3 separate regions of the Homo sapiens genome follow, and all the other regions are linked to region 1. The links come from fine-mapping of genetic effects on gene expression. A gene starts in region 1. Each other region holds a variant in brackets. All regions are shown on one strand. Distances are from middle to middle.

Region 1 (10,499 bases):
GAGATCATCCTGGATGAACTGGGTGGATGCAAAATCCAATGACAAATGTCCTTATAAGAAGAGGGGAATACCAATGCCAACAGTAGAGAAGAAACATAGGGAAGATGTGAAAATGGATGCAGAGATTGGAGTTATGTAGCTATAAGCTAAAGACAATCAAGGATTGCCTGTGGCCATTAAAAGCTAGAAGAGGGCTGGGCATGGTGGCCCACGCCTGTAATCCCAGCACTTTGGGAGGCTGAGGCAGGCGGATCACCTGAGGTCAGGAGTCCAAGACGAGCCTGGCTAACATGGTGAAACCCCGTCTCTGCAAAAATGCAAAAATTAGCAGGGTGTGGTGGCATGTGCCTGTAATCCGTGCTACTTGGGAGGCTGAGGCAGGAGAATCGCTCGAACCCAGGAGGCAGAGGTTGCAGTGAGCAGAGATCGCGCCATTGCACTCCAGCCTGGGTGACAGAGTGAGACTCTGTCTCAAAAAAGAAAAAAAAAGCTAGAAGAGACAAAAGAGGGTTCTCCCCTGAGTCTTTACAGGAAGTGATACCCTGCCAACACTTTGACTTCAGACTTCTGGCTTCCAGAATTGTGAGAGAATAAATTCCTTCTGGTGTAGGTCACCAAATTTGTGGTAATTTTTAATGGCAACCCTAAAAAAACTAACCCACCAGCATATAAAAACATGGAGTATGATGATGGTAACTACTGTCCACTTCTTCTGCCCAGGTGTCAGCCAGCCTGGCCCTAAAGAGATGTGAAAACTAGATCTCACTTGAAACCTTGCAGCCACATCCTTCTCCCTGCATCTCTTGGTCTTCCCTCAAAATACAAACTTCTGCATTTAGTCTTTCCCAAACTTTAATCCCTAGAAGGTAAATACTGATTCTTGCTTCACCCATGCAAGAATTTCTACTTTCTTCCACACAGCATTGGTTATATAATTTGCTGGGCTCAATGAAAGATGAAAATGCAAGTCCCCTTGGTAAAAAAAAAAATAATAATAATAAATAAATAAATAAAATAAAATAAAATAAAATATTTCAATGCAGGGACAGGGGAGCATTAAACATTGCACAGGGCCTTCTTAAAAGTAGATCCTGAGCAAGGCATGTGGCTTATGCCTGAAATCCAAACACTGTGGAAGGCCAAGACGGGTGGATCGCTTGAGCCCAGGAGTTCGAGGCCAGCCTGGCCAACATAGCAAAACCCCGTCTCTACAAAAAAACAAAACAAAACAAAACAAAACAAAAAAACAAAACAAAAAAACCCACAAAAGTTAGCCAGGTGTGGTGATGTGTGCCCGTAGTCTCAGCTACTCTGGAGGCTAAGGTGGGAAGATTGCTTGAGCCTGGGGGGCCAAGTCTGGAGTGAGCCGAGATTGGGCCACTGCACTCCAGCCTGGGTGAGAGAGTCAGACTCTGTCTCAAAAACAAACAACACGTAGATCCCTGCTCAACTGAACAGGTCATAGACCCACGAAGCCAGCCCTACCTCCCACCTCTTAACTACTCTGACCTTGGAGAATCCTCATTTAATATTGAAAAATACCACCAACCTCATAAACTATTTACACAATGCTTTCTCCATTTTCTGGCCTTAAGTGGAAATAAGCTTTCTTCTAAGAATTATTTCCCCTAGATGTCCCTTTGATATAGACTGTTCATTGTTTCACATTCTAGGGTCACAGGGGCAGTGTTGGGATCCTTGTAACTCCCCAGTATTACTTCTGAAGTCTTAATTGTCTCTTTTACCAGTCCTTGATCCACTTACGTTTTTCCTCCCTGGATATGCACCTTCTGCCCCAACTTTGCATAGTCATCCTCTCAGTTCTGGATCAGTCCACTACATTCACGGAAGTGTTTGTTATCAAACTCACTCCTTTTTTCATTCTGGTATTACTGTTGGTGGCTTCAATGTCCATATAGTTTCTTCAATACCTTAGTCCCTAATGTCTTGATCTTCGTTCTACGTCAGCCAACCCCACCCTTAGCTCTTCCATAAACTGTCTATCTTTGTACTTCTAAAACTTCAAAGAAAACGATCCCATTTCCTGACTACAACTTATCTCTCTCATTTGATGTGGATTTGTAGTTCTTGGACTCTTCCTTCTTCTCCCCTCTTTGTCCTCACTTATTTTCCTATTTATTCTTGTTAACCTTAAAACCTTGTCTTAAAAATAGTATCCAAGCTTGCTCCTTGTCTTTTCATCACATCACTTGGCACAATCCCAAAGTTGGATTAAACTTTCTGCATTTAAAGGCATATATTTGACACAAATTCACAATTCACATGATTGTGTGGAATTACTGCTACCACCAATTCTTGGACTCAAAAACTCCTCCTTGCACTTATGGTCAGGTCGTGTCTAACATTTGCAAAAGCAGCTACTGCAAACCTTTCCGCATCTTCTCCTTACTTTCCTAGTAGAAATGAGAGGCCATCAAAAATCTTAAATCTAAATAGACAAAAGCATTCTATAAATAGTGTTCTTATAAGTCATTATTTGGTCTTAAGTGTGGAAACAAAGTTAATACTTATTCATTTCAAAACGGCCTGTAGAGTACCTACTTTGTGAAGGTACTATTCTAGGTGTTGAGGATATGGCCTTCATGGGCCATACATTCCAGTGGTTCTGATGATTTCATATGTAGGTTAAAAGCTTAGCAGTGAGGTCTAGTGGTTTTCTCACATTGATCCCAAAATACAGATTTTACAAAGCAAAATTTTCAAGTATAGGAAATACACTTGCAGGATCATAAAAATCCAATCATGATACCATAATTCATAAGTTCAAACATTTTAGTATCACTCTCTGTCATAGTACCTCTAAAATAAATAAACCTTAGAATAATTTGCCCTAGATAATAAAAATATATGTTATTATATAATATAATAATAACAGGCCTTAGCAGTATGCCAGATAATAAGTTTTAAAGTTACACTAATGATATAAATAACTCTCAGTCTCTTTGATTAATGCTTGTGTAACCACACAAGTAACTATATTTTTATTAGGCGGGTGCAGAAGCTACTGCAGTTTTTGCCAGTACTTTTTTGCAATTACTTTTGCACTAACCTAATACAAAACAAAATGTGCCTACATCACAATTCAGAAAAATCACAGCTTTATTAGCAGAGTATAATTTAAGGAAGTCAATCAATCCTGAAGGCAGAAAGACCTAAGTTCAAAACTGATTTGGAATCTTCTCAGCTATTTAGCCTTGTTCAAAGTATCTAACCTTGCTGAACCTCAGTTTACTATCTGAAAATAGAGAAAATTATTACTATATTGTGGAGGTATGAATATTGAATAATTTAAAGAACTTGATTGTACTACCATTAGCACACACTGAATAAAATATTAGTCTGATTATATTTTCGTATTTCCATATTTAGGCTTTTGCCTAAAAAGGGAATTTGGAAGTGGTCATTGGCAGGTGTCATAGGCTTTGGGTGGCAAGTCAGAGCATAGTATGAATGAGCAAATTAGTAAAGACTAGAGATAAGAGAAGACTTTGAGTACTAATTAAGAGTTTCAGGAGACCAGAGGAGATTTTAAGACTTCAGTGAGAAACCACTTTCTCAGGAAGCAGATAAATTAATTTTATCAGCAGTATCGTCGTCCATGTAATATGGCTTTTAAAAAGCACAGTGAGACCTTAGTAGTAACGACTTTATTTTTCTTAGTGAGAACCTGAAAGTGAAACTTGATATACATTATTTTCTGCTTTTATTGCACAAAAAGTTGTTTCCATTGCATATTGCTTCCTAATCTGTTAAAATAATCTGTTAACAAACTCGAAGACCCAGATTCGGGGCGTAGATAAGCCTGTGTACCTTCCTACCTTCTCCAAACAGCCAACATTAGATCAAAGGGCAACCTTAATGACACCTGGAGCACAAACCCTGCTCAGGGCGCGTACAACCGGAGGGACAGAAAACACGATGCGACGTCGGAAAGCAGGAAGGGAATTGAAATTCCCGCAGTCACGTCACAGAAATCTTAGCAGAACCTCATCATCGCCCAAGGGAACTGGGAGTGGCGGGCGGGGAGGACGCGGGTTGTGTGACGATCACCGATAATTAGTTGGTGGTTAACGCACAAGTAGGATAAAAGAGCTCGCCCCAGGCTGCCAGCAGAAAAAAGCTACCGTGGCACGTGCCCCGGGGAGTGATGCGGTGGCCCGGTTTGCACGGAGAGCGGGACACCGCCTGGGGAGCCGCGCTCGTAGCCTGGGGGCGGGACGCGGCGGCCGCTCCCTCCGCCCCCGAGTAGCTGCCACCGCCTGGCTGCGCCCCAGCCCAGTAGCTCAGACGCGGCCGCATCCCGGTGGACTGTAGAGGCGGCAGCGAGCTAGAGCCCGAGTCGCAGCTCCGGGCCGCAGAGCGCTGGGCGAGCGCGAGCGCCAGGGCACCGGCAGGGCAGGCAGCTGCGCGCGGCTGGTACGTACCTGGTGGAGCGGGCGCGTGAGTGGGTGTCCCTATGCGAGGAGGGAGGAGTGGGACTTGGGAAGTCGGGGGAGACTGACCCAGGGAAGATGTGGTAAGTGCAACTTTCCTATTTTCTGCCCTGCTGGCACAAATATGGGGGGAGTTCGAAGCAGATGCCTCTTTCGCTTGGGCGACCCGATCCATCGTTTAACTCACAAGTCAGGGTACTTAGAGAGTGAAAAGGACGCTCACGCCAACAGGCGTGACGTGGGAGGTCTGTCACCTGCCTTTTGCCCACTCTGCCCTGCAGGTGGCCATTGATGACCTCCTGTCACAAGTCGCTGAGTCCTTCGGCTCTCGCGCCAGCAATGCCAAGTCTTTCCCCTGGGCGGTGCTTACCAAGCCCCGGGTAGTCACGAGCGGCCGCGGGGTTAGCAGAGACCCGAGTACTAACCCGCTCGGCCAGCGTCCGGCTGTGTGGCTTTAGCCAAGTCACCTCACCTCACTGGCCTCCGTCCATTCTTTGGATAAAATATGGAGGTGGGTAGACCGAGTAAACTCAAGGGTCGCCCGTAGCTATTGGATTTTCCCTGCTCCTAGGACCCCGGCAGGCCGCAGGGAGGGACACGAGTGCCAGGTGGTCGCGGGCTGAGGGAGCGGAGGGCCTGTGTTCCGGTTGGTGCTGATGCTAGCCCCTTGGGGAAATTCCTGAAGGTGCATTTCGGAGCCAAATGACCCTGCCTTGCAGCAGGTCCCTTCCAAGGGAGCTGAGAGGGCCAGGTCAGACCGGTCTTCGTAGAGCTCCCCGGGGAACGCAGCCAACGGAACTCGGGTCCTTTAGAAAAGTGCATGCGTGAACTAGGCATGTGGGAAGCACTAAAACAAACAACAAACAAACAACAAAACACCCTGCAGGTGGTAGTGTTATTAGCTGGAGTCTGTGCAGGACTGGAAAGTGGAGATTTGAGGCGAATGACCACTTAAACGTTCATCTAGAAAAAAAATTTTAAAAAAACTCTTTTATCAGTGGTTTGCATACTGAAAGGTATTGAATTAGAAATATTGCGAGTATTGCATTTCTCTTCGTGTACAGATAGATTTCAAAATTCATCTGTCCACTTTATCTCTTCACAAGATGCCTTCCTTCTTACTGACATTGCCACACATTCAAAAAAAATCCTCCTGGGATTTTATATTTAGAAAGCTCAGCATTTGGATTATTAAAATGAGAACTGATGACCATAATGCTCACGGAAAATGGGGTAGGTTATGGATCAAGTTTGGTTAAATCAGCAGTTTATAAACCTTGTTTCCTGTTAGTGTGCCGGGTGCTGGTCAATGCCCCCCTAGTGACACTATCTCAAGAGATCATTTGCTAAAAAGGTGTTTTGGAAGTTCAAAAGATTCGATTTTGAAGGAAAGTATAGCTTTGGAAAGGAAATCTTTTGGAAAACGTTTTTAGTAATGGACTTCTCAATCTTATCTTTACCACAACTTTCTTCAATAAAATATCAAAGACTAATGGACCACATTATGCAGAATATTTTAAAATGTGTCAAATTTCATTTTTGTTAAAGAGTTTTTCCTCCTTTTTAGTCGATTGCAAACATATTGTTTAGATCAATGATAGATCAATTTAATTTTCCTCACAGTTCTTACAATTATTTAAATTCTTACGCAGTTTGCATTACAGCATTTTTTTACAACTTTATTGAGATATAATTTATATATTATAAAGTTCACCCTTTAAGGGTGAATAATATTTAAAAATTATATTTCAGTGAGTTTTAGAAAATTTGTTAATTTTCTAAAAGTTGTAAAACCATTACCATATCTGGTTTTAGAACATTCCAAAATTGTAAAACCATTACCATATCTGGTTTTAGAACAGTTTACTCACTTGGTAAGATTCCTTATGTCCATTATGTCTTTGTTCCCACTCCCATTCCCAGGCAACCATTAATCTACTTTCAGTCTATAGATTTGCCTTTTCTGAACATTTTATATAAATGGAATGATATACTATATGGTCTTTTGCTTATGGCTTCTCTTACTTAGCATAATGTTTTTGGGGTTCAGCTATGTTGTGGCATGTATCAGTATTTCATTTCTTCTTATTGCTGAATAGTTTTCCATTGTATGGATATACCACATTTTGTCAATTTACTAGTGGATGGATATTTGGGTTGTTTCCAATATGGGAATATTATGAATCATGCTGCTGAGAACATTTGCATTCAAGTGTTTGTGAGTACCCGTTTTCATTTCTCTTGGGTAGATGCTTAACAGTGAAATTGGTAGGTTGTATGACAAACTTGTGTCTAACTTTTAAGGAACACTATAGAGTAATTTTTGTAGAAGTTATATATATAAAAATTTAAAAAATTCTGGAAAAATAAATGTTTCTTACTGGATCATATATGATGTTATATGTATATAGAGAGAGGCTTGGGAGAGGAACCATTGCTTCTCTTCAAATTTAGAGCTGAGGTACAGCAAACACTTTTGAAAAAAATGTCGCAATATTTCTCAGAAACGAGATATTTCTTGCCTAATGTTTTTTAATGCTAAATGAGCATGAATCAGGCTTAATCAAGACTAAATTTTCATTAATGTCAATTGAAAATGAGAAAGCATGCAGTTTGAAAATTGTATTTTAAGTGTTGAGACTTAGCCAGCTCTGAATGGCTGGACAATAAATTCGGTGGTTTTCCATTTCTTCAATGCAAAATTTTAATTGAGTTAGAAAAAACAAAATTATTCTTTCCTCAACATCAAAAATAAACTATACGTCTTGTGAACTATATGTCTTGTGATAAGCATTGTTAATCATGATTCCATATAATTATTTTAAATAATAATTAAGCATATTCTATTAGTAGATTTAGGGATCTAAGGCCCAAGAGTAAGTGATTTCCATATACAAAAATCACATATTAGACCAGGGCTCTGGTTTTCCTGTTTTAAAACTTCCCCCATTAGTACATGTTCCTCTAAATCCTGTTAGTTTCAGACATTTTCATATGTTATATGTACTTTAAAAAAGTCATTACCAGGTAGTGACATTACATGGAAATAATCTAGGTTAAGCACTTGAACATCCCCATAAAATCAAAGACAGCTACTATTTTTTATTTTTATTAGAAGTACAACTGGTTTTGGCCCTGCGTGGTGGCTCATGCCTGTAATCCCAGCACTTTGGGAGGCTGAGGTGGGCGGATCACAAGGTCAAGAGGTAGAGACCATCCTAGCCAACATGGTGAAACCCCGTCTCTCTAAAAATACAAAAATTAGCTGGGTGTGGTGGTGCACACCTGTAGTCCCAGCTATTTGGGAGGCCGAGGTAGGAGTATCGCTTGAACCCAGGAGGCAGAGGTTGCAGTGAGCTGAGATGGCACCACTGCACTCCAGCCTGGTGACAGAGTGAGACTCCATCAAAAAAAAAAAAAAAAAAAAAGAATTACAGTTGATTTTGAGAAATCAAATGGATATGCTACTTTTTACTGAACTGAGGTACACTTTTTATTCTAGCAAGTGGCAAATAGCAGTATTATGTGCCCAGAGCAGAGTGGATTTGTGTTCTTCAGTCACTCCTAGTTGTAAAAATGTGACATTGCCCAAGAGTTGGGTGCTTGGTTGGAGAAGAGAGTTCAGAGATGTTTAGATAAAAATAAAACAATCTAGATTTGCATAATTTCCTGAACGGGAAGAGGTATTCTCACCTAGAATCCTGGATCTGTTAGAAGTAGGATTTCTCAGATTGGAAAGAGGGCCAAGGAAATGGAGATTCTTTAAGACAATGTGGTCTGTAGCCAAGATAGTTTTAATGTAATTGAAGAAGCAGCAACAGAAGCATCTACAGACAATATGAATGGAGCTGGATTCCTTCCTGTACCTCCCAGACTCTCCCTTCCTGCAGTCTCTGCTTTCTTCTAAGCACTCTTATTGGCTATGCTGTTGAAAGTATTCTTATCCCCGTGGGGGTGTGGGAGTAAGCATCCCCATGGGGGTGTGGGAGTAAGTAAACTGTAGGCTTTCTTTTTTTTTGGATAAAGTAAAGGGAGAACTGAAGTCCAGTGTGATAGCTTCAGGAATAAAACCATGGAAGACAGGAAATAATTAGGTAGTCTTCTCAAGCATGCTTATATTTTAATGGTCACAAAATAATTTATATCTAGATTAAATTTTATGGATTGAGCTAATACATCTCAGAAGAAGAAAACACCATTCTTAAAATTCTTAAAATCATAAAATCTTAAAATCAGTGTGTGTGTATGTGTATGTGCATGTGTGTGTAAAGAGGGCTTACAACTCATGCAATTACATTAGTGTATTACATTAGTTTATTTTATATTTTAAAATGAAAATAAATACCTCTACCATGGAGCTTCTGGAGCCAGGTATAATATTAAATTTTAAAATGCTGAAATAAGCCCTACTTTTCTCACTTTTCCCAAAAAGGCCTTGAAATCTAATGAAAAGCCAGATTATAGGTATGGTGGATTTTGTTACACTCCAAGGGTTTGCAAAAAGTCTATCAAGCCAAAATTTATAAACGCCAGGACTTCACAGAAACCACTCTTCTTTTCAGTTCCATCATCCTTGAAGAAGGGTGTCTATGATAATTCTGTGTATTGTAGTGAAGTAGTAGAACTTTTTGCAGTAGTGAAAAGAAAAAAAAAATTTTTAAATATGTCTTTCTAACATGCCATGAAGCTGTGCATATGTATATACTGTTGTAATCCTGGGGAGGTTTCATCTGAAGGCTACTGGAAGGACTGCTCTAGTAGGCCAAGCAAGAGATGCTGAATGAGTCAGGGCAGCAGAATTAGGGATGAGGAAAAGTATTCAGATTCTAGAAATATTAGGAGATGAAAATAATTGAGTTTGATGGTAGTTGGGATATGAAGTTAAGAAGACATGAGAATGAAGAGTGCCTCTCAGATTCTTGGCTTGAAGTGAGAGCTGGCACAATTTACAAACATGCAGGTTTAAGAATGGGGCGACTTCATGGGTGTACTGAGTTGGATAATGTCTCCCCAAAATTCACGTCCTTCCTAGAATCTCAGGATATGACCTTATTTGGAAATAGGATCACTACATATGCAATTAGCTAGGATGAGGTCATACTAGAGTAAGGTGGGCTCTTAACCCAATATGACTGGTTTCCTTATAAGAAGAGGCAAGAGACACAAAGAGAAAGACACATAGAGGGTAGACAACATGACAATGCTGGGGGAGATTGAAGTTATGAAACTGTAAACCAAGGGATGCCAAGGTTTGCTGGCAACCACTAGAAGCTAAGAGAGAGGCATAAAACAGATTTCCCCTCTGATTCCACAAAAATGAACCAACCCTACTGACAGTTGATTGGATTGCTGCCATTCTGAACTGTGTGAAAATAAATTTCTGTTGTGTTAAGTCACTCAGTTTGTGGTAATTTGTTACAGCAGCTCTATCAAACTAATACAGTGGGTGTGAGTAAAAGATACATTGGGGTGAAGATATCCAAGAAGCTGTTGTATAACAAGCTCAGAAGATGCAGATTGAGTTGACATTGGCATGCAGTAGGTAAATATAATGATGAGATCTCCTATGGGAAGCACATGGAATCAGAAGGAAAATGGGAGAAAAATGAATCCTGGGAAATGAGTTCCAGTCAGAGCCCAAGAGGAGAAGCTGGAAAGGGCATTGTCATAGCGACAAAGGTATGTAGAGCTTCAAAATGTGTGGCATGATCAACAAGTCATAGACATAAGAGGACATAATAGGAGAAGGGTTGAAGGGACTTTTGTTTTGACAAGTAGAAAGCAAGAGTAATGGCTTTATGATTGGAAGGTTGAAGCCAGATTGTGCTGCGTGAGAAGGAAATGGAAAGTAAGGAGATAGGATCAGCTAGTGTCCAGTAGTCCTCCCAGGATTATAGGTGAAAGATGGAGGAGACGGTTCGGTATGCAGGGAATCACGCGACACAGTGTCCAATTAATTTTTGTTTAATATTTAAAGGAAAGCCTTTGTCCTATCTTTAGGAGTCATTAGTGTGGGAGAGGCTGTTAAGTATAGAAAAGACAATT
Region 2 (10,023 bases), 98 kb after region 1:
AAAAGGTGAATTATCTCAGGAATTGGAACATGAAAAAAATAACATTGTGGAAATATAACGGTATGATGGATATACACAGAAGACCAATTCTTAAATACTTAGATATATGCTAAGGTATTTAGATATGCAGTGTCATGTTAATGGCAGCTTGCTTTCAGTTGGTGAAATAATAACTGTGTGTGTGTGTGTGTGTGTGTGTTTATGTTTAGAGAGATTAAATATAGCAAAGTGTTGATCATTGAATCAGGTGGAGGCTCCTTCTTGAAACCCCAGTACTTTTGGAGGCCAAGGAGGGAGGATCACTTGAGGCCAGAAGTTTAAGACCATCCTTCAACTCTACAAAAAGTTTTAAAATTAGGCAAGTGTGATGCTGCCCACCTGTAGCTCTAACTATTCGGGAGGCAGACAGGACATTGCTTTTAGCTCAAACAATTGAGGCTGCAGTGAGTTGTGATCATGTCACTGCACTCCAGTCTGGGAAACAGAGGGAGACCTTGTCTAAAAATAAAATATACCAGAAAAACACTATAGCTGAAAGCCATCTATTTAATAATCCTTAGAATTTTTGTCACAAATTATTATAAACAAGATCTATTGTTTCCATGATCAAAAATTTCTCCACCAATATCTAATTTTGTGGTGCCTTTGTGAGTCCTCCAAGATCATCATGGTTCAATGACCACATTGATAATCAAAGCCTTTTTCAGAAATCAATGGACAATAAGAGTGTATTTGTCTATTTCTAGAGTGTCTATTTTATTTTGTATTCTATTTGTCTACCCTTGAGGAATACCACACAGAATTAATAGCCATCAAGTCTGATAGTGTAAGTCCTTTACTTTTTCCTTTCTTTTTGGAATAAGAAGTTATTCTCAGTCTGTAGCATTTTCATATAAATTTTTGGAATCAGCTTATTACTCTATTGTGGTAGATTTGATTTAAAAACTTCACCTTTTAATATGCTTTAATGGTTCTCCTTGACATCTGTCTCTATTTTCAGAAAGCGCATCTTTTTTTTTTTTTTTTTTTTGAGACGGAGTCTTGCTCTGTGGCTACACTGGAGTGTAGTGGCGCAATTTCGACTCACTGCAACCTCCAGCTCCCTGGTTCAAGTGATTCTCCTGCCTTGGCCTCCTAAGTAGCTGGGATTACAGGCACATGCCACCACGCCCAGCTAATTTTTTGTATTTTTAGTAGACATGGGGTTTCACCATGTTGGCCAGGATGGTCTCGATCTCCTGACCTTGTAATCTGCCTGCCTTGGCCTCCCAAAGTGCTGGGATTACGGCATGAGCCACTGCGCCTGGCCAGAAAATGCATCTCATACACACCTTTACTATGTGATTTAGAAGTTTCATGATTCCCTGGTGCTTACAGGATACGTTCACATATTGTTCATGGCATTCATTTTCTTTCCCACTATGTTATGACTATGCTCCAACTCATTTTTCCAACTCCACGTGGGCATAACACTCCATGGCAGCGAAATGTTTCCTTTTCTCTTATTTAGAACTTGCTTTTTGCACTCCCCTCTTTTAGCTTACAGATATTTCTCTGGCTTAGTAAGCCTTTCATTCCCTTTCTACCTGTGTGGATTCCTCCCAAATTTTGAGGCTCTGTGTGTGTTCTACAGCCTTTGTGAAATATTCCTTAATCACCCCAAAATTCAGTAACCATTTATCTTTTACATTTCTATAGTAGTTTTATTTATAACACTTATTTGAATATATCATATATTTACTTCTATTTTTACATTTCCTTTAATATGCAACATATTCCATCTGTACGATGAGTTCACAACTCTTTCAGGGTGGGGACCATATATTAAGCATCTTCATGTGTCCCCACTGTTTCTATCACAATGCTTAGTCTTATTTGCCACTGTTTCCCCAGAGTCTTGCACTGAACGGAAGATATAGTAGATGCTTAACAATAATTGATTGAATGAGGACTGAGTCTGTGCTCAATAAATGTTTGCTGAGGTGTAATTTAAGGAGAAAATAATGAGTTGTGAGATGAAATGGGTTCCAGTCTTGTCTCTGTTACTTGCTAGCTAGGTTTAGCCAAACCCTTTTATTTCTATGATCGTCAGTTTCCTCACCCTTAAAATGAAGACAGTAGTGACTAATCCACAGTGTAGAATCACATGAACAAATTCTCAATAAAGTGCTTTAAAACAATGCATGCTTAACACATGCATATGCCATTTTTCATATCATAAAAATCTTCATTATAGAAAATTTGGAAAAAAGTAAAATTCAACGAAGAAAATAGAAATCATTAATAATAACATACACAAAGGGAATAACTATTATAATTTCAGTATATTTCCCTTAAAATGTTTTTCTGTGAATGTATTTTAAAACTAATATATGCATAGTGGTTTTAAAATTTTGAAAATTTATGTTTTTAAATATTTTAGATATTTTCATGGCCTCATTTTTCTATTTAACTTATATAGTACTAAAGGACTATAGTAACATAATTTTGTACAAAATGTTTTTATAAAAGTTAAATGTATCAATTTAAATAATGCTACTTCTATTAACTTAATTGCAGGTTAATATAAACATGCATAATTTGATGAAAAAATATTTCAATTAGATGATTTTTCTTTCTAAAGTTGTTTGCCCTTTGGTTGGGATTTTTTTTCCTCTATGACCCAGAAAAATTCTCAAAACTACTCTTAATTTTTGTTCCCATAATTTTGATTGAATTTTTTGCTTGCTGCAACGTTATAATGATTTCTTCTGTAAAGTACCGAAGATAACTTAGAAAACAAATCAGAGCTCAAAAAGGCTTAATCATTTCTCTCCTTTTCTTTGTTGGAAGAAAAAAATGAATATTATATTCATTTAAATATGGGCTAAGAGACATCCTAAGAGTTTTTCTTTAAATTGATGAAATAGAAGAAAAAGACACTACCGAAACTGTGGGTGCATTTAAAAAAGCATTATACCTATCTATTTTATACCCATTTTATTTATCCGATTAAAGAAACATTTATAAGTAATTTCAGTACTCAGCCATGTTCCTTGCTTTTTGGCTATGCATATTTTACATAGTTGGTATATGCTCTCTAATGTTAACATTCAAGAAAATTTTATTTTTTCAAAACTGTCATTAGAAATTTTGAATTATGTTGATTTGAGAAAGATTGCATTTTTAAGATATAATAAAATGATATCAAATAAATATCATCTAGCTTCAAACTAAATGGTGTGTAAAATATGTTGTGATATTCTTGTATATGTGCCGCTGAAAAAATTCTGGCAGGTTATGCACCAGAATTACAACAGCACTGTTACTGGATAGCGGGATGGCAATCTCTTTTTCCTTCTTTATGTCTTTTGGAATTGTCCTTTTCCCAACAACAAGCATATATTAATGTCATATGCAAAAAGAAAAAAAATTCATGTTGAAAAGTGGAAAGACAATTATTTTATTTATTGAGTGCTTGCTGAATAAGAATCAGGCATGGCTTTTGGTCCTATGAATACATCAATGAAACAACCTACAAAAACAAAAGCTCTGCTTTGTGGAGCTTACCTTCTAGTGAAGGGAGACAGACAATAAGCAACAACTGCAATCATAAGTAAATGCGAATACATTTTCAAAGCTAGTAAGTGCTAAGAGAAAGTAAGAGGAATTAGAAGCTGGAGGGATGAGATGCAATTTTAAACAAGGTGGTTAAAGCAAGCCCCACTGAGAAAGCAGGACTCTGTCAATATTATCTTTTGTGACCCTTTTTCCTATGCCATATTATCTCATTTTAATATTACTCAGATTAAGAATGCTTTTTTAGGCATCATGAAGAAATCAAGAATTTCAATCCCATTTTAACCATTGGAGAGAACACTGAAACATGGTTTGTTTCTGAAAGTATGTGAAAATTTCACCTTTAGGGAGAAATCTTCCTATGGGCAGTGTAGGGGAGATATGGTTTTCTGTGACTGGTGACTTGTATGGTTCAGATGTTGCAGAAACGTAGACAGGTTTGAGGGTGTGCTGGGAAGCAGATTGTAAATGATTTTTTGAATGCCTTTTTAAACAATATCAACTTTCTGGAAATGTCTCAGAGTTAATCTCTTTTTCTTGACATGGAGTCTTGCTCTGTTGCCCAGGCTGGAGTGTAGTAGCGTGATCTCAGGTCACTGCAACCTCCTCCTCCCGGGTTCAAGTGATTCTACTGCCTCAGCCTCCTGAGTAACTGGGATTACAGGCATGCGTCACCACGCCTGGCTAATTTTTGTATTTTTAGTAGATACTGGCCAGTAGATATTGGCCAGGCTGGTCTCAAACTCCTGACCTCAGGTGATCTGCCTGCCTCAGCCTCCCAAAACCCTGAGATTACAGGCATGAGCCATCACGCCCAGCTGCGTTAATCTCTTTCTGCCTACAGTCCAACATCAGAGGCTGTCTCTAGAGCCACGTCAACACTGTTGCTTAAAAGAATAATTGATATTCATAATGATACTCTGTCATAGTGCCTATAAATTTATATGACTGATATCTAAATAAATTCCATTTGTGTAGTTGTTAACCAAGCACATTTATAACATTAGTTCATTTGAGTCCAGGGTAGTAAAATAGATAATATAAATCCTACTTTTTAAAAATGTAGAATGCTAATCAACAAAGAAGTTAGATGTCTTTCTAGAAGTTGAAAGTCCAGGATTCAACTTCAGAAGTGTTCACTTTTAGGCGACCAAACTTCCCATTGCTCCATATAGACCGTGTAACAAACAAGAGGACTAAGGGCAGTCACTTTGAGAGTGTGTTAATGCAGTTAAGTAGTGCCCAAAGCTCTGCTTTCAAATCATCATTTAAAATAGTTTTATTTTGAATATGTGCAAATCTAAATTACCTAAGGAGGTTTTGAAAAGTAGCTGAAGTCATTCTTAGTACAAAGAGATGGGATCAAGTGGGAGTTTTTTTTTTTAATTAAAAACAGTTTACTATAAAATACGTTATATTTTAAATAGAACATGTTACCACTATTTGATGTATGAGTATAAAATGAGTTGCAATGATGGAGTCACAAAAACAGTTTCAGAAGTGGAATAAATATGTGGCTACTTAAAGTAATTGCTTTGATAGATGATACTCATTTCCATCTATAAATTTTGGTGTGTTAGTAAAAATAGTTCTATTATTTGGTATCACACTGCATTTTCCCTTTGAAAGATAAATAAGTATATATTAATTATAAATGCTTTCTGAAATGAAAGTTTAAAATTTAAAGTGTCCATGTGTATAACCATCAGATGTCCTAGATGAGGGTCGTACTGTATGAGTTTTTGCAGCAACTACTGCTCTGGCTCTACCAATCCAGGTTTACTACCCACATCTAAAAACCATTGTATTTGCCATTAGTCTACAGCCTGACTCCTATCTATTTTGATGTTAACAAAACAAAATCTATTTTAATACTGAATAACTGAACTTTCAGTCTTATTATTTATTTACTTTTGATCTTTATTATGAATATTAATAATGTAAAGGACCTTCATTTTCAGCTCATAATCGATAGGTATCAGCTATTAATTCAACATTGATTTATTGATTGTATTAAGCAGATATGTTCCAGTCTCTCTACTAGGCAGAGGGATATGAAGCCATTTCTATTGTGACCACATTGGTAAGAATTAACTTCCCCTTCTCTTCTTCCTACTGATGTCATAAACC[G/A]CCATTTGACATTTTAAAACCATATATCTCATTGAAAAGGGAACTGACTTTTTAGGCCTTGCATGTAAACCCCCAACACAGACGGCCGTGTTCCCTCTTTGTAGGGAAGAGTACAAGCAGACCACAAGAACTTCAAAATCACATTGTACACAAGAACTTCAAAATCACATTATTTTCCCACTAGGGCAAATTCAGTGCTGGGGATTTTGTGTACTTGGAGTGTATTTGTGCCCCCTTTGAAATCTAAGAATACTTTGTGTACAATAGTAGTTGGAAAAGCAACTAAATGAGAAATGGGTGGTCTGAGGGCAGCCCTTCTCTGAAATTTGCTTACTTATTTTCTGGGGTTCCATTAAATGCTGTGTTCCCTGTGAAGCCTGGCCTCATTTTCTATCCTGGAATTAAGCGCTGCCTCCACTGCTCACGTGGTAAAGGTGCTAGCACGCAGCCTTCACAGACTGCCAGTTAAGGCATGGGAAGACCTTACTTACTGTGCCAAATTCCACAGTATCTAGCGTGGGGCTTTGCAGAGTTGGTGTTACATAAATGCTTTTTGAATTGAACCCTAACTTCTTTAAGCAGGCTCCAGTACCTCAATAAAATAAGAACCAACAATATTTGAGTCACTGGTTAGAAAGAATAATGTGAAACAAATGAAAGTGAAGGAGTATAAATAGGGTTTGAGGTAAGGTGGGAAAAAAAGAATGAGAAGGGTTTCTTCAAATCCGTGCTAAATCCTCTCAATTCTGAATACTCTGAAGCTAGAAATAAAAGCTAAACTATATAAAATGTAGACAGTAGGGATGCTTTGCTATGGTTATAACCACTTATATTCATCTAAAGGAGAAGTGAAAATATCACTGTATTCTGGATAACACCCAATATACATAGCACACACACACAAACACACACACCACACAGGGACACACACACCCCACTCAAGCTAATGTATTAAAAAGGAAACCTGTTTAATTTTTAGAAAGACTTTTTCATATACAGTGAATTTTCTTTTTTATTTTTATCCCTGTAGATAGCTGGGTTTGTTTTTGTTTTTTGTTACGGAAAGCAGCAGGAGGAATCATGGTAATGGAAGAAAGAGTACCGCCTAAACTTAGGAAAGACTTTGACACAAATTAAGCTATGTTATATTGATGCATCACTTAAGTGTCTGGATCTGGAAGTCTGGACTATATCATCTTTTCAAATGTAATATCCTGCAATCATGTGAGAAATTTATTAGTCCTTTTGGGAATCTGCAAGTGGTTGGGAGAAGCCCAACTAACTCCCTGCAAACCTTTATGGAGGATACATGTTGAATAAGTCTTTCTAGTATGAAACTAAAAAGAATAAGATGACCAGTTAAATCTGACTCCCCCAAACACAGACACATACTCAAGGAGGCTACATAGTTTATTGCAGTCCATCTTTTTTATCATTAACAACATTCATGTATATTAGTATTGTAAGTGGCCTTATGTTAGTATAAGAAGTAACATTGTGCTGGAAGGGTATTCAGCTTTGTGCATTAATTTATCTGGAAAATTATGAAAAAATTAATTTGACTTTGCATTTTGAATTTTATATGTTTAAGCTGTCAAAAATTCTCTGTGGTAAAAATAACTTCCATGTGCCTACCAATGTATATTGAAGGATCTGTCTATGCAATTAGCAAGCAAGAACATAAACATTAAAAAATGTGCGTGTCAACAAACCAAAGGTAGGGTTCCCTTTGACTTACACTAGAGACAGAGAAATACCATCTTTTGAAAAATTTCAAAGACAGGAAAGTTTCTAAGTTGAAAAAAATTACGCAGGTCTACATTTCATGTAAGTTCTGTTTAGCTTAAAATGATCTTGATACTTAAGTGAATAGGAGATATGTAAAGCATTTACATTTTAGGAGTGGGTAATTTTACTTTATTTCCAAATAATAGGATTTGAGGTCAAGAAAGGTAACTAGAAAGATCAAACTGTGTCTCATCTCACCAGACTCTGGGTTCCTCTTTGTAACTTGTGGGCCAGCAACAAGGCTTTGCACTTAATAATTTAGTAGGAGCTCAAGAGATGACTGAATGAATAAATAATGATCTGTTTTTGTTGGCACATAAAGAAGTAATTCTAGTTCTTTCGCCTTTTTTGGAAGAGGTTCGTGTGTTTCAAAACAGAAAATTATATGAAATAAATAATTCGTAGGCAGAGAACTGAAAACATGTAGCATAAGGGATTAGGATACTGAGAGCTGGAGAGAGGTAGATAAGGCATTTGGTTATCAGGGGAGACCAGTGTCAGTCTGTCCATTTGTCAGTCTCTCCTTCTCTCTTAGTCTTTGGTCAGGAAAAGCACTGACATTTTTTCCAAAATGCATGTTTTTACTTCTTTGTTATTTTGTGTTTTTTCAGAAAGTCTGACTCATACCTCCAGGGAACTAATTTAGCGGGCAAGAAGTTTATTTGAAGTCTTAGGTATAAAATGAGCAATGGTTTCACTGTGGAAGATAGGGTGAGTGATATGTATCTGGAGATGAGAAAAGAATGGATCTACCATTTTGCAATCTTGGCTTCAAGTAAGGAAGCTTGAGAAAATAATGTGTTTGAATTAAGAAAATGGACCTGTTGTGGGGAGGAAACAGTTTGCAAAACTTCTGTTTGTTTATAATTATGCTTCTAACATACTAACATCCTCTTTTTCTTAGCAGGCTCTTCGGGGCCCACTGGGTTCTGACTGGTGATTTTTTAATAGCCTTTAGTGCTCCATTTATCTTGAACATCTCGTCCTCTTGAGTAGTGCTGATGTTGCATTCTCAATATTTCAGAGACTGTAAAGATGCTGGCATGTGTGTATATACATATATAAATATATATATGACTGTGTAATAGTCTTTTCTCAAGCAGCCTGAAAATTGTATATTTTCAATAGAGATAGAAGTGTGTCTCAGGCAACGTAAATTGCGTTACCTTGCTGTGGGATTGCAAGGACTTTTGTGAAATCTCCAAATGTCTAAATGGTTCCAGCTCCTGTAAGCAGCCACAGTTGACAAAGCAGCACTCATCTAGAGTCCTTTGTTAATTCTCTAGAAGAGAAAGAGGAAGAGTTGCTAGTGAGTCAGCTGCCTTGGTTGGCAAACATAACATAATTAGCTATTTAAGCCCAGAAAATGAAAAGACCCTCAAGTTAATCTGTCATTTTTCTCTGCAGTATTTCCTCATCTTTCTGTGGGCTATATATTATAATTATCACAAGCCATTTGAAGAGAGCAATTGTCTGTTTTCTATATGTATATCGCCCCTTTTAAAAAAACCAAGCATGTGCAATCGGTGTTGTATAGAAAACTAACAACAGACAAATGAGAGATGGCTACTGGGGGAAGGAGAAGCTTTCACTTAACGATATGCTATCATTTGGTTAAATTTTCAAAATGTTACTTTTAGAGCCTTTCTGTGCTAGAATATCTGTTTATTTATAATTTTTCCAGGTGGATTTTTCAATTCTTTTAAATTACAAAGGTAATATATATGCTCATTAGTAAAAGTGAAAATATGTAAAGAGGTAGAGAAAAAGGTTAATATTTTCCTTGTTCTACCTTCCGTTCCCAACTAGAATTTTTATTATTTGTATAAAGTTGAGGTTACATTGCATTCATAATGCTCTCCCCTTTTCCCCCTATAAATATTAATTTTTAAACTTGCTTTATTTCACAGTGTGTCAGTGGATCTAATACATTCTTTAACACTGTGGTATAACATTCCATAACATAATTACATAGCTTATTCAGATACTTTTTTTCTTGTTGGGCTTTCAGGTTGTCTCCAGTGGTACAATAAATCTCTTTGCTTTGGAGTTTAAAGAGCCCAGCTAAGAGTCACCTTGTGGATTCAAATATTCCTGCCACCAATTTCTAGGCCATTGACACATTTGGTCAGGAAAATAGCTTTTCTCTGTAGAAAGTGCCATCTTCCTACATCGCTGTGAGGCTGGGCGGGGTTAGCTATTCGGTCTGCCTCTGGTGAAGCATGACATCTTGGTCAGTCAATATCAGTGGCAGACTGAAAGGAAGATTGTGCCAAATGTGAGTTTGCCACAGCCAAGTACAGCCCCGAAGTAAAACAGTTTTGTTACTTAGCCTCCCTATATGGCCACTTCTGTTTTCGATCTTAAAATAGTAGTTAATGAATATAATTTTAACAAACTTTTAGATAGTTTTGTGATTCTTTTATTTTCCAGCATCGATCTACAAAAAGGACTAATTAGAAAGCCTCTATGTGAAATAATAATATAAAGGCAAAAGGAAAAACTTCCAAAATAGCAGTCAGCTAGCAGCAAAATAATCTTGAAATA
Region 3 (10,499 bases), 59 kb after region 1:
TCATGAATTAGTAAAATTAAGCTTGTTTTTGTTCTTGTTGACTCATATACCTGGGTTAAAAAAAGTTTCAAAATGACAGCAATGACAAAAAAAATAAGGTTAGGCTGCATTGCTTAGTAAAGATAAGTAGGAAAACCAGAAGTGAACATTTCAACCTTTGTCTATTGTTGAGCAAAATACGAAACCTTAATTTGGCCAGTTTATTTTGAGAGATTGTTCTTGCAGATAATGCTTAAGAGTCACTCTTCAAAGGGCCCTTTAAAATGGATTTATTGCAAAATTTTATTTCAAATTATTTTCTTAGTCTAAAATTCAAAACTAACAATCTGCATCTTATTTAGATAAAAGCATCTAAATCTGCAGCATGTTAAATAGTTAGCAAAGAAATATTCTTCTGAATAAGATCCTTCTAATGCATTTCTCTGCTGTGTGTGCTTTTTCTAGGATATAGAAGAATGAAATAGCAATGACAATGTTAGGACAAAGTAGACTCGGGAGAGAGACCTTCAGCTCAAAAAATAATGAGATCAAAATCACACAGGAATTCACACAGTGTTAGTTTTGAAAGGAAACAGACGTTAGGGAAAGGAAAAAAGAAAGTTGGTTGTAAAGTCAGTTTTTAATGAAAAAAAAACTGAAAATGCATTTGAAATTTTCATAGATATTTTCTGGTCCTATGCATATAACTGGTTATTTAGAGGTAATTGTTTTTTGATGAAGCTGAGTTTATCCTCCACCCCCTAACCTGACACCTCAGTAAAGGAATGGCCTGTGACCTTGTGCTAGTCTTTTAACCTTCTAAAGCACAGTTTTTCCTTCGGTATAAAGAATAGTCATAATAGCAACTTCTGTTTATTAAGCACTTACTATGTGTTAGGAATTACACTAAGTACTTTTCGGACATTGTCTCATTTAATCTTCACAACATCCTGTGAAGTGGAAGTTTTATTTCCACAGTACAAATAAGGAAATGTGAGCCGAGTTTCCCCAAGTCATATAGCTATTATGTTCTAGAGCCAGTCTGTCTCCAAAGCTCGTGTGCATAGCATTATACTGTCTTTAATGTTAGTCTTTTCCAGCCTTAGCCTTCCATGACCAAACCTTTATGACCATCTGACTTCCTTTGCCCAGTGCACTCACCATCGACACTGCCTCTCAGCCAGATTCAAACAGGTTAACCTTGCAAAAGCCCTTAAATTTCCAACAGGTTACCTATGCAGAAGAAGAAACTGAAGTTCAAAGGGCTTATTGCTTTGTAAGGGCTCATTTAGCTAACCAAAATCATGTCCGTTTAATAGCAGTATCTTGACTGACTCAAAAGGGCACAAAAATATAATATCTACTTCAAAAACATTTTTTAAAACTGGGGATATGTGCTAGTTGTGTTTTGTTTTTGTTTTTGTTTTTGTTTTTGTTTTACTTCTCTTCCACCTCTAGGAGTCTATCAAGTCACTTTCTGGTGGATACGCAATATGACAACACATCTCTTAGTAGTCTTGAGCTGCCCTCATGGGCGCATTTCTGTGTGCTTTTTGAAACAGACCAGACTCCTTTGAGCAGGTTACTGATCTTATCAAGGTAGGGAGTGAACATCTGGTATTAATCTATAATGCTAAGAGGGTATCTTATAGAAACCATTTTGAAAAAATATGGGATATATCAAAAGTGACCTCTAAAGTATAATTCATCAACTTTACTTTCAGACAAAGTCTGAAAAGTATATTTCTTTTTGTTGCTCCTGTGAATCGACTTAGTCAACCACTACTACTAGTATTAAGTCCATATGGCGGACAGACCTGGATTCATGACTTGACCTTGCTTGGCACTGGTTCGATTATAACCTCAAGCTTCCTTAGGCATCCAATGGTACTAATATTTTTTTTTTTATGGCTTTTGAAAGGATTCAGTGAGAGAATGTTTAATGCATCTAGAAAGTCATGGGCACTCCACAATTGTTTGCTCCCTTTCCTCCCAGTGAGTTGGTATGTTCCTTTTTATATTTAACATAGTTTTCATTGGCCTTCTTCTGTGAGCACAAATGTTTATAGATGCCAGATGGAAATAATGCGTCTATGTATGTAACAATACTGGGGTTAGACTTAACTTTTTTCAATTTATTTTATAATTAACATCAAAATTAACTGTGATGCCTAACAATTTCCTCTTTAACCTCAGATATACCTATTAAAATGTTGTAAGTCGGCCAGGCGCCGTGGCTCACGCCTGTAATCCCAGCACTTTGGGAGGCCGAGGAGATCGAGACCATCCTGGCTAACACAGTGAAACCCCGTCTCTACCAAAAATACAAAAAATTAGCTGGGCGTGGTGGCGGGCGCCTGTAGTCCCAGCTACTCAGGAGGCTGAGGCAGGAGGATGGCATGAACCCGGGAGGCGGAGCTTGCAGTGAGCCGAGATGACGCCACTGCACTCCAGCCTGGGGGACAAAGCAAGACTGTCTCAAAAAAAATAAAAATGAAAATAAAAATAAAAGTTGTAAGTGAGATGAAAGATAATGTAAAGCTTATGAACTTTTTTGTTGGTGTTTGAGGATTATAATATAGGTAAGAAAGTAATATAAGCTAAGAAGTTTAATAGTTATGGAAAAAAATTAAAAGTTACTTCTTTTATTGAGGCTTTGCAAGCAAACATTAAGAAGCACTGAATAGTTTACAAAAAAAATGTGAATCTGCTGTTTTGGTGCTGTGGTTTTTATGTGGCACATGGTAAAAAAGTAAAGAGAAGCTCTTTCCAGATTGATCTGAGTGGCTTTCAGGTTATATTTAAATGCCAGGAATTCTAGAACCACACAGGCCACACCTGAAAAGATATACAGACAGACAGGAGTGAAGCAATGGCAATTTTGTGTGTCGAATGCTGTGTCATGAAATGCAACCCCCACCCTCTACCCTGCTCCCACTTAACATATACACACTCTTCTCTTACTCCAACTCAAAATAAGAAAAGAAGGTTTCTTTCCCCTCAAGCTAATTTCTTGGTGTACAGCAATCTTTGTTCAGCTATTCTGCAACCATATGTAAAGGAAAGGTCATTTTAGAGCAGGTTTTCACACTCTGATCTACCTGGAGAAGTGAAAAGTATTGTCTGGTCATTAAGTAAAAAAATGACAGGGTTTAGAATCCCAAAATGTGTACCAGTATTAAGAGTTTAAAAGAATACTGTATATAGGATTCAAGGATAACACTAAAAACAACAGTGAAACTGTCTTCCAAACAATTGGAAAGACCGTGGATAATGCAGTCACTATGTGAAGAGAAAAAGGAGATTCCTAACCGATTTCTCTTCAAAGGAAGAGAGAGGGATATCAATTTCTCATACTAAGTGAATTAGTATGATCGACTTTTATGAAAATGTTCTGGTAAAGAAAAATGGAGTCTTTCCTGATGTCCCTTAAGCAGCTATACTACACATTCTGCAGACTAAAACTAGAGAGAAAACAATCTTCAGAGAAAAAGCTAAAATGGTGTGTTTTGTCAATATGAAGTGGACAGTGGAATACAAAACAGAAATCTTCGGTCTGACTTCTCCCTAAAAAATGTCCTCCTGGTTGGATCAACCAAGCCAGGTGGGGAAGAAGAACCGTTGGAGGGCCTAGTATAACATTGCCTGAATGTTCTGGAATGCTGATGACCTTCCAGGAATATTAGCACATCTCACAAGTGATACAGACTCCCAAACTCTTTCTTCTTATATATAACAGTTGGCTTCTATGTTGCCAACTTTATTAACTTCAAAGCTTAATGTGAAATTTAAATCACCATATCTTCCAATGAAACAATAAAAATTGAGGAGGAGGATTTGTTTCAATTTGCCATTTCTACTTACAGACATCAGCCCCTGGCTGGGTGCGTTGGCTCACTCCTGTTATCCCAAAACTTTAGGAGACTAAGGTGGGAGGATTGCTTAAGGCCAAGAGTTTGAGACCAGCCTGGAAAATATATTGAGACCCCATTCCTATTAAAAAAACAAAACAAAACAAAAACAATCAGCCTCCTAGAAAGAATATGTGAGTAGAAAGGCACTTATGCTTCATTTTCCCTTCATTCTTGTCACCTCTTTTCTTCCTCTATTGTGAGAATTTAAAAAGGACAGAATGTCATAGGTATCTGTTGGGTGTTTTTTTTTCTCTTGGAATTCTGGAAATTTAAACTAAAGAAATTATTGAGATCTGGCTTGTTCAGAACTGTAATTAATGCCTTTCTATTTCAAGAAATGATTGCTTCAGTTTTTTTTGGGAGCTTTAAATGGATTTAAGACATTTAGCCCACATTAGATTCCCTTTAAATTTGTTTGTCAGCTTGAATCAAGGTTAATTCTATTATTCCATGGTTTTAATCATTAACCCTTTCCTATGTAGGATAATAACATTCTTTTTTTTTTAACCTTTGCTGATTACTGCTGCTCTCTTCTGCCTTTTGTGAGAATACCCCATCATTCAGCTTTTGGCATTCTCTGATCTTAGTCTTAGATTCTATTAATTTTCACATTTTCATCTGTATATACTATACAAAATTGCTGACATTTCTATTTTCAAATTTTTCCTTTTGTCTGAGTTCCAGGCCCATACTTTCAGCTCCC[G/A]CCTTGGCTGTTTTCCACCATCTGAACTCCACCCATCTCCCTCTCACCTGTTATTTTGTTGGTGGTTCCAGTATTGTCCTAGTTCCCTGGGCATAAAACCTTGAAATTGTTTGAGTTCATCATTCTCCCTCATTCGGTGTAGCCTATCACCACATTCCATGGATTTTTCCATTTTGTAAATTCTTTTTATGTCCATATATATTAGTTTCCGACATCAGTTTGGCAGTTATTGCAAAATCCAAAAATGACAGTGGATGAAACGCAATGTAAGTTTAGTTCTATCTTATGTGCAATCCAGGCAGGTGCTATAGGGCTGGTATAGTGGCTTAACCAGGTTAGGGATGCAGGCCCCTTCTATCTAGTTGCTTTGTCATCTCCAAGGTATTGTGTTTGTCCACCTCATGAAGCATGACTCGCAGCAACAGATGCAGTCCAGTTTTCAGAAAGGGCAAAAGAGGAATGAGAGACCACATTCCCTTCTCTTTCAGTATGTAACCTGGAAGTGGAGTATATCACTTCTGCACCTAGCCATATTTAATGAAGAAATCCAGTTGCATGACCTAGCAGCATGGAAAGCTTGGTAATACTATCTGTGGCTGTGTACCCAGCTAAACTTTCTATTTCTATAGAAAGGGGGAGAGGAGCAAATAGCAGCCAGCCAGCAGTATTCCCTACACTCGTCTTCCTCCAGTTTTATAGTCTGCACCCTTTGGTGGGCCCTTATTGCCCATTGCCAAGGCTATTTCTAAAAACTTTTGCTGGATTTGCTATTTGCTTACTACCAATCCACCCATCACCCATTCTTTCTTATAAGGAATCACATGTTTTTGTTGTTGTTGTTGTTGTTGTTGTTGTTAAACCTCATCAGACCTTTGCTCAGTGGCCCACAGCATGAAGTCTCTGTTTCAATATTCTTTATAATCTGGTCCTAGTATACCTGTTGCCAGCCATCTTTCAACTTTTATTATTTCATTAATTTATTCATTTAGTATATGTATGTTGAGTACTTACTATGTGTCAGGCAGAGTCATTCATTCTCCTAAGCTAGTTCATTTGAGTTGGTGGACAGAAAACATCCTCATGAATGCACATCATTTTCAATGTCACCATGATTCATCTCTGTGATGATTGTGTTCACCATTGTAGTGCTTGAGAGGTTAAATGCATCCTCTTAAGAGTAGACTTTTAAAACTAGGTCTTACAGTTGAAGTGGTTAACTTGCTTCACATAGTCAGATGATGTTCAGTGGATACATTTTAACTTTCAGGGTTTTATGTATTTTAGAACTATGCCTTGCTTTTAAAAACAAAACAAAAATTTAAAAGAATACTTATTGAAGAGGCCAGGCGCGGTGGCTCACGCCTGTAATCCCAGCACTTTGGGAGGCCGAGGTGGGCGGATCACGAGGTCAGGAGATAGAGACCATCCTGGCCAACATGGTGAAACCCTGTCTCTACTAAAAATACAAAAATTAGCTGGGTGTGGTGGTGGGCACCTGTAATCCCAGCTACTTGGGAGGCTGAGGCAGGAGAATGGCTTGAACCCAGGAGGCGGAGGTTGCAGTGAGCCAAAATTGCGCCACTGCACTCCAGCCTGGTGACAGAGAAAGACTCTGTCTCAAAAAAAAAAAAAAATACTTATTGAAGTATCTATAACTAGATTTAGTAGCTCATTGACATTGTAAAATAGTTCAAATGAAAGCATAGGTTAGGTCTTATCTCGTGTTACAGTTGTCTAGTTGCTTATTTGTTCCCAAGCAACCTCACCTGATCCCCAGTCTTACAGACTGAAGTGTAAAAGCCTTTACCGGAACATGCCTTTGACTGAACTTTGTCCTCCAAACTACATTTCCTTCTCCTTCTACAGTCCTTGGTGTTTTGAGGCAGAAATTTGCATAATGTAACTAACCTGACATGATTTTTATGTTTACAATTCATTTTTCAGAGAAGTCACTGAACCAGGTGAGATACATGAGGCTGACTTATACAAGTTCAGGGTTAAATCTGTATTTAAAACTTTGATATTTTGTTCATCATAGATCTTTGCATAAATTTCTATTTTTACAGTGTATGGCATTTACATGTTATTTATCTTGATTTCTGAGCTTTTGGGCACCCCCTGAAATTTTGTGCTTCAGACCTGATAGATTCTTCTCCTTTATGCATGTTATTTGCATGTTAACATGGCTGGCTGCTTGAGTAATTAAAACTCAAGTTAGAAAATATATATTTGGAAGAAAAAATAAGTATTTATTGTTTTACCAAACCCTAGTACCAAAAATTACCTTAATTCCTGTTAGTTAATGGTTTAAGTATTTATATTTACAACTGAGGTCAGCTTGGGACATGCAGAGAAATCAGTTCCTGCAAGCAAATACTGATTGTCCATCAAAAAGGAGGATGGACAAGCACCAAGATGAATATTTTTAGCTACATTATTATATCTTTCTTGAAAAGGCTGCTCTTGTTCCATCTCCAGCCTGGTAGCCTCATCTCTAAAGTGGCAGTGTAGACATGTAGTTTTCCCTGAGAAGGAGGAGAAGAGTAGGGAAGGGAGTGAGTAGAGCATCAGACCTTGAAGCCCGAGGTACCCAGAGCAGTTCTGCTTGCATCCATCTTGAGTGTAGGCCTTCTGCTAAGGGGTTCATTTAAAAAGAAAATATTCCTCATCTAAAAACAATAGTTTGAAAATGATTGAACTAAATGACATTCAACATCTCTGCTAATTCTGAATGTGCATGTGTTTCTACTGTGATAAATTTCTGCTGATTCACCCATACTTTGATCTGTTCCCTTTGTAAAGGGTATCAATACACCTTGATGAGTCCACTGGCTTTTTGGCTGTTGATATGTCTTAGCTTCCATGTATATCACCAAGTTTTCTCTTGATTTAGTTGTAGTTTCAGGAGAGAGAATGGAGAAAGAATCAGACCTCGTGTGGTAGAAACATGCAAATTCTGCATCGTACACTGAGGATCATGAAAAAATATTAGAACATCTAATTATATCTATTTATATTTTATTTTTAATGTCTGTTAATGTATTTAACATATATAATAATAATATAGCAAATAAGTTATATTAGACTATTAGGATAGTAATACTTATAATTTATAGTATAAATATTCATATATAGGAGATATGTACACACAAAAATTATTTTTATATTTGTTAGGGGCGTGCTACTGTTCTTGAAATCTTCCCAAGAATTACTGCACTTTCATTAGTAAAATATTTGATAAGTGATATTTTAAAGGATGAGTAGAGACTCTCACAGTCTCAACCTTTAGTATTTTTGTGTTAAGCATATCTTCATTAAATCTGAATTTTTATGTACATTAGTAATAAAAAACATGGATGAAATATTTTCAAAGTCCACCACATAGGTATATTTGTTTGTAAAATAAACTGGAAAGAAGTGGAGAGGGAAAAACATAACTATTTCACTCATTTTTTTTTATTTTGGTTGTGTTGCAATAGACAAGGATAGGTGGATTTCTGTAAAAAAAATTAATCATGGAAAGGTTATAAAATTATAGGGATATTTTAAACATGCATTTTTAAAATGCAAATAGCAATGTTTACTTTTATCTAACAGACTTTAAACTAGATTCTTATTTATAGTTTCTACTAGATCTTTGCCAAGAGCTGCATCCAAATGGTTGAAAATATTAAGACTACAAAATTTTGTTTTCTTAATCATGTCTTTTAGGTGTGTATATTTACATTACATTATATAAGTTTTGAAGTTTACAAATTTTTATCTTTTTGCTACTTACTGTATCATCATTTCTTCATTTATTTCTCACTTCCTCTTCTCAGTTCCTTTTATTTGGTCTGGACATATAGGACTCATTGAAGGAAAAAGTCCCAGACAAAGAGTGAGAGGAAGAGCAAAGATCATTTGAGAAACTGAGTATGGGAACAAGGTTAAAATGATGTCTGCTTTTAATTTTAAAATTCTTCCAAGGTGGTAAAATACGCATTCAGGCAGCTCCAAGTCTGAAAAACACCTAATGCACCTTGACATTCAACAGGTATTTATTGCACTCCTCCTACCATCTGTGAAACACTGTGCTGGGAACAAGACAAATGAGTCACAGTCCATGCCCTCAAAAGGCTTAAAAAAATGTGTTTGCAGCAGAAAAGCAGACACTAAACTGAAATGTGTAATGCCTGTGATAAGCACAAAGACAGATCTATACCAGAGTGTTTTAGAGCACATAGGAAGGAACCTGCCTAGACTAAGGAAGACATAGAAGGCTCTGGAAAGGGTTGCCCAAGTTGACCCAGAAGAGATGAAGAAGATATACTAGCAAGGAGATGGGGAAGAGATGGAGGGCAAAGAAACTCAGCCACAGGGGTGACAGAAATAAAGCACAGGATTCTACTGGTGGAGTGTGACTGCAGAGTTTTAGGATTGGTGGAGGTTGGGCATGGGTGAAAAGGAAGGAAAAGTGGAGTGGGGCTAGTTCTTGGAGGGCACCATGTACCACGTGAAGGGATTTGGGCTTGATATTGTAGGTGATAGGCAAACTAATAAGGGTTAATTGTAGAATGATCATGACTATATTTACTTTGAAATAATTCTACCTGACACCTGTGTAAAGAATGGATTTGCAGGAAGCAAGAATGCATACAAGAAAATCATTAGGACGTTGTTGCCACAGTCCAGGAAGAGTGAATGGTAGGTTGAACTAAGGCAGTGAGAGTGTGGTGAAGGGAATTTGCAAAGTGCCTTATTGCTATGAGTGGCTAATGTGCATACCGACGGTTCATACTCCCATTATTTTTCACCCTTCTTATGCCAGATGCTAAGTCCTGAAATATAAGGCCCATTCTGTGAATAGGAATAATATATAGGTAGTTTACTTTGATTTCCAAGAGCAAGATGGTTCGATTCCTTTGACATGATCCTTATGTGGGTACTGGTAATATTGGTACAATGCCTTAGAATACTTATGGAGGGTGCAGAAGATTCTCTACAATTATATTCTCAAAGTCTGGTGTGTTTCTACAAACTTCCAAAGGTGGTATCATGCCAAATATTGTCCTACAATCATTTTTATGTGGCTACAAATATTTCCTGTAATGATCAGTTGTTTTTACACGATGATTTCTCAACCTGGCAATGATCCTTAACAGCATCAATGCAGCAATCATCCACTGGATTTTGTAGCTGATAATCTTGGGAACTAATAACTGTTATTTGAAATAAGATCCTTTTGACTTTTAATAGAAAATTTTATGTTTGAATTAGAGGTTCGGCTTTTCCCGAGAAAGTCAGGCAAGTCATGATGTTTACCAGTTTTAGCTAAATATTTTAAAAAGCCAAAAGTAATTAAAATTTGATTAACTGGATTGCCACCTTTTCTGGTTCTTCATAGTTTTTTTTTTTAATTTGCAGGAAAGAAAGTTTATCAGAATTTTTTAAACCTGTCTCAGAAATAACAACATATTTTAATCAGAGATTTGTAAGTATCCTTTTCTTCTTTATTTAGGAAATTATATGTTGATTTTGTGAAAGAAATGGTTCCTACCATAAAACACTTGACAGGAAATGGATATTTAGTCTGAAGTGGCATGCAAAATTTGAATGAGAGTAATACATATGCAAAAATCTACCACTCCTCAAACAACAAAATAAATAAACCAAAGCCTCAATTAGAAAACCTTCACCAAGTCTATCTATAGCTCATAAATATTTGGTTTATTCTTTGGACATTTCTCTTTGATGATGTCTTTTTCATTATCGTTTTTCCTTTTGTGAAGATACATGTGTGTCTACATATTTTAGAGAGTTTGTCACATCAATGAGAAGGAAGAGAAAAAGAGGTCCACAGGAAAGGGAAGAAATAGTATTCTGTTAAAAGTTAATATGGCTTTTCTATGACCACTTTTGGT

Evidence for each region.
Region 2: its variant is fine-mapped to the expression of PKIB in blood mononuclear cells (TOPMed, PIP above 0.99). The same link has a PIP of 0.9 or more in lung.
Region 3: its variant is fine-mapped to the expression of PKIB in whole blood (INTERVAL, PIP 0.92).

Annotation. Positions count from the first base shown.
Region 1 is chr6:122,606,099-122,616,597 of GRCh38, forward strand. It overlaps PKIB (cAMP-dependent protein kinase inhibitor beta), which reads left to right and starts at 4,307. Exons shown (of 5, transcript NM_181795.3): 1 at 4,307-4,437. RefSeq lists a silencer at 4,158-4,337 and an enhancer at 4,954-5,599.
Region 2 is chr6:122,704,555-122,714,577 of GRCh38, forward strand. The region is part of intron 3 of PKIB (cAMP-dependent protein kinase inhibitor beta); the gene reads left to right. Among named protein-coding and RNA genes, the nearest start is that of FABP7, 70 kb to the right of the region's middle. The variant G/A (reference allele first, on the strand shown) is at 5,689.
Region 3 is chr6:122,665,076-122,675,574 of GRCh38, forward strand. PKIB (cAMP-dependent protein kinase inhibitor beta) reads left to right here. Exons shown (of 5, transcript NM_181795.3): 3 at 10,003-10,069. Among named protein-coding and RNA genes, the nearest start is that of PKIB, 60 kb to the left of the region's middle. The variant G/A (reference allele first, on the strand shown) is at 4,597.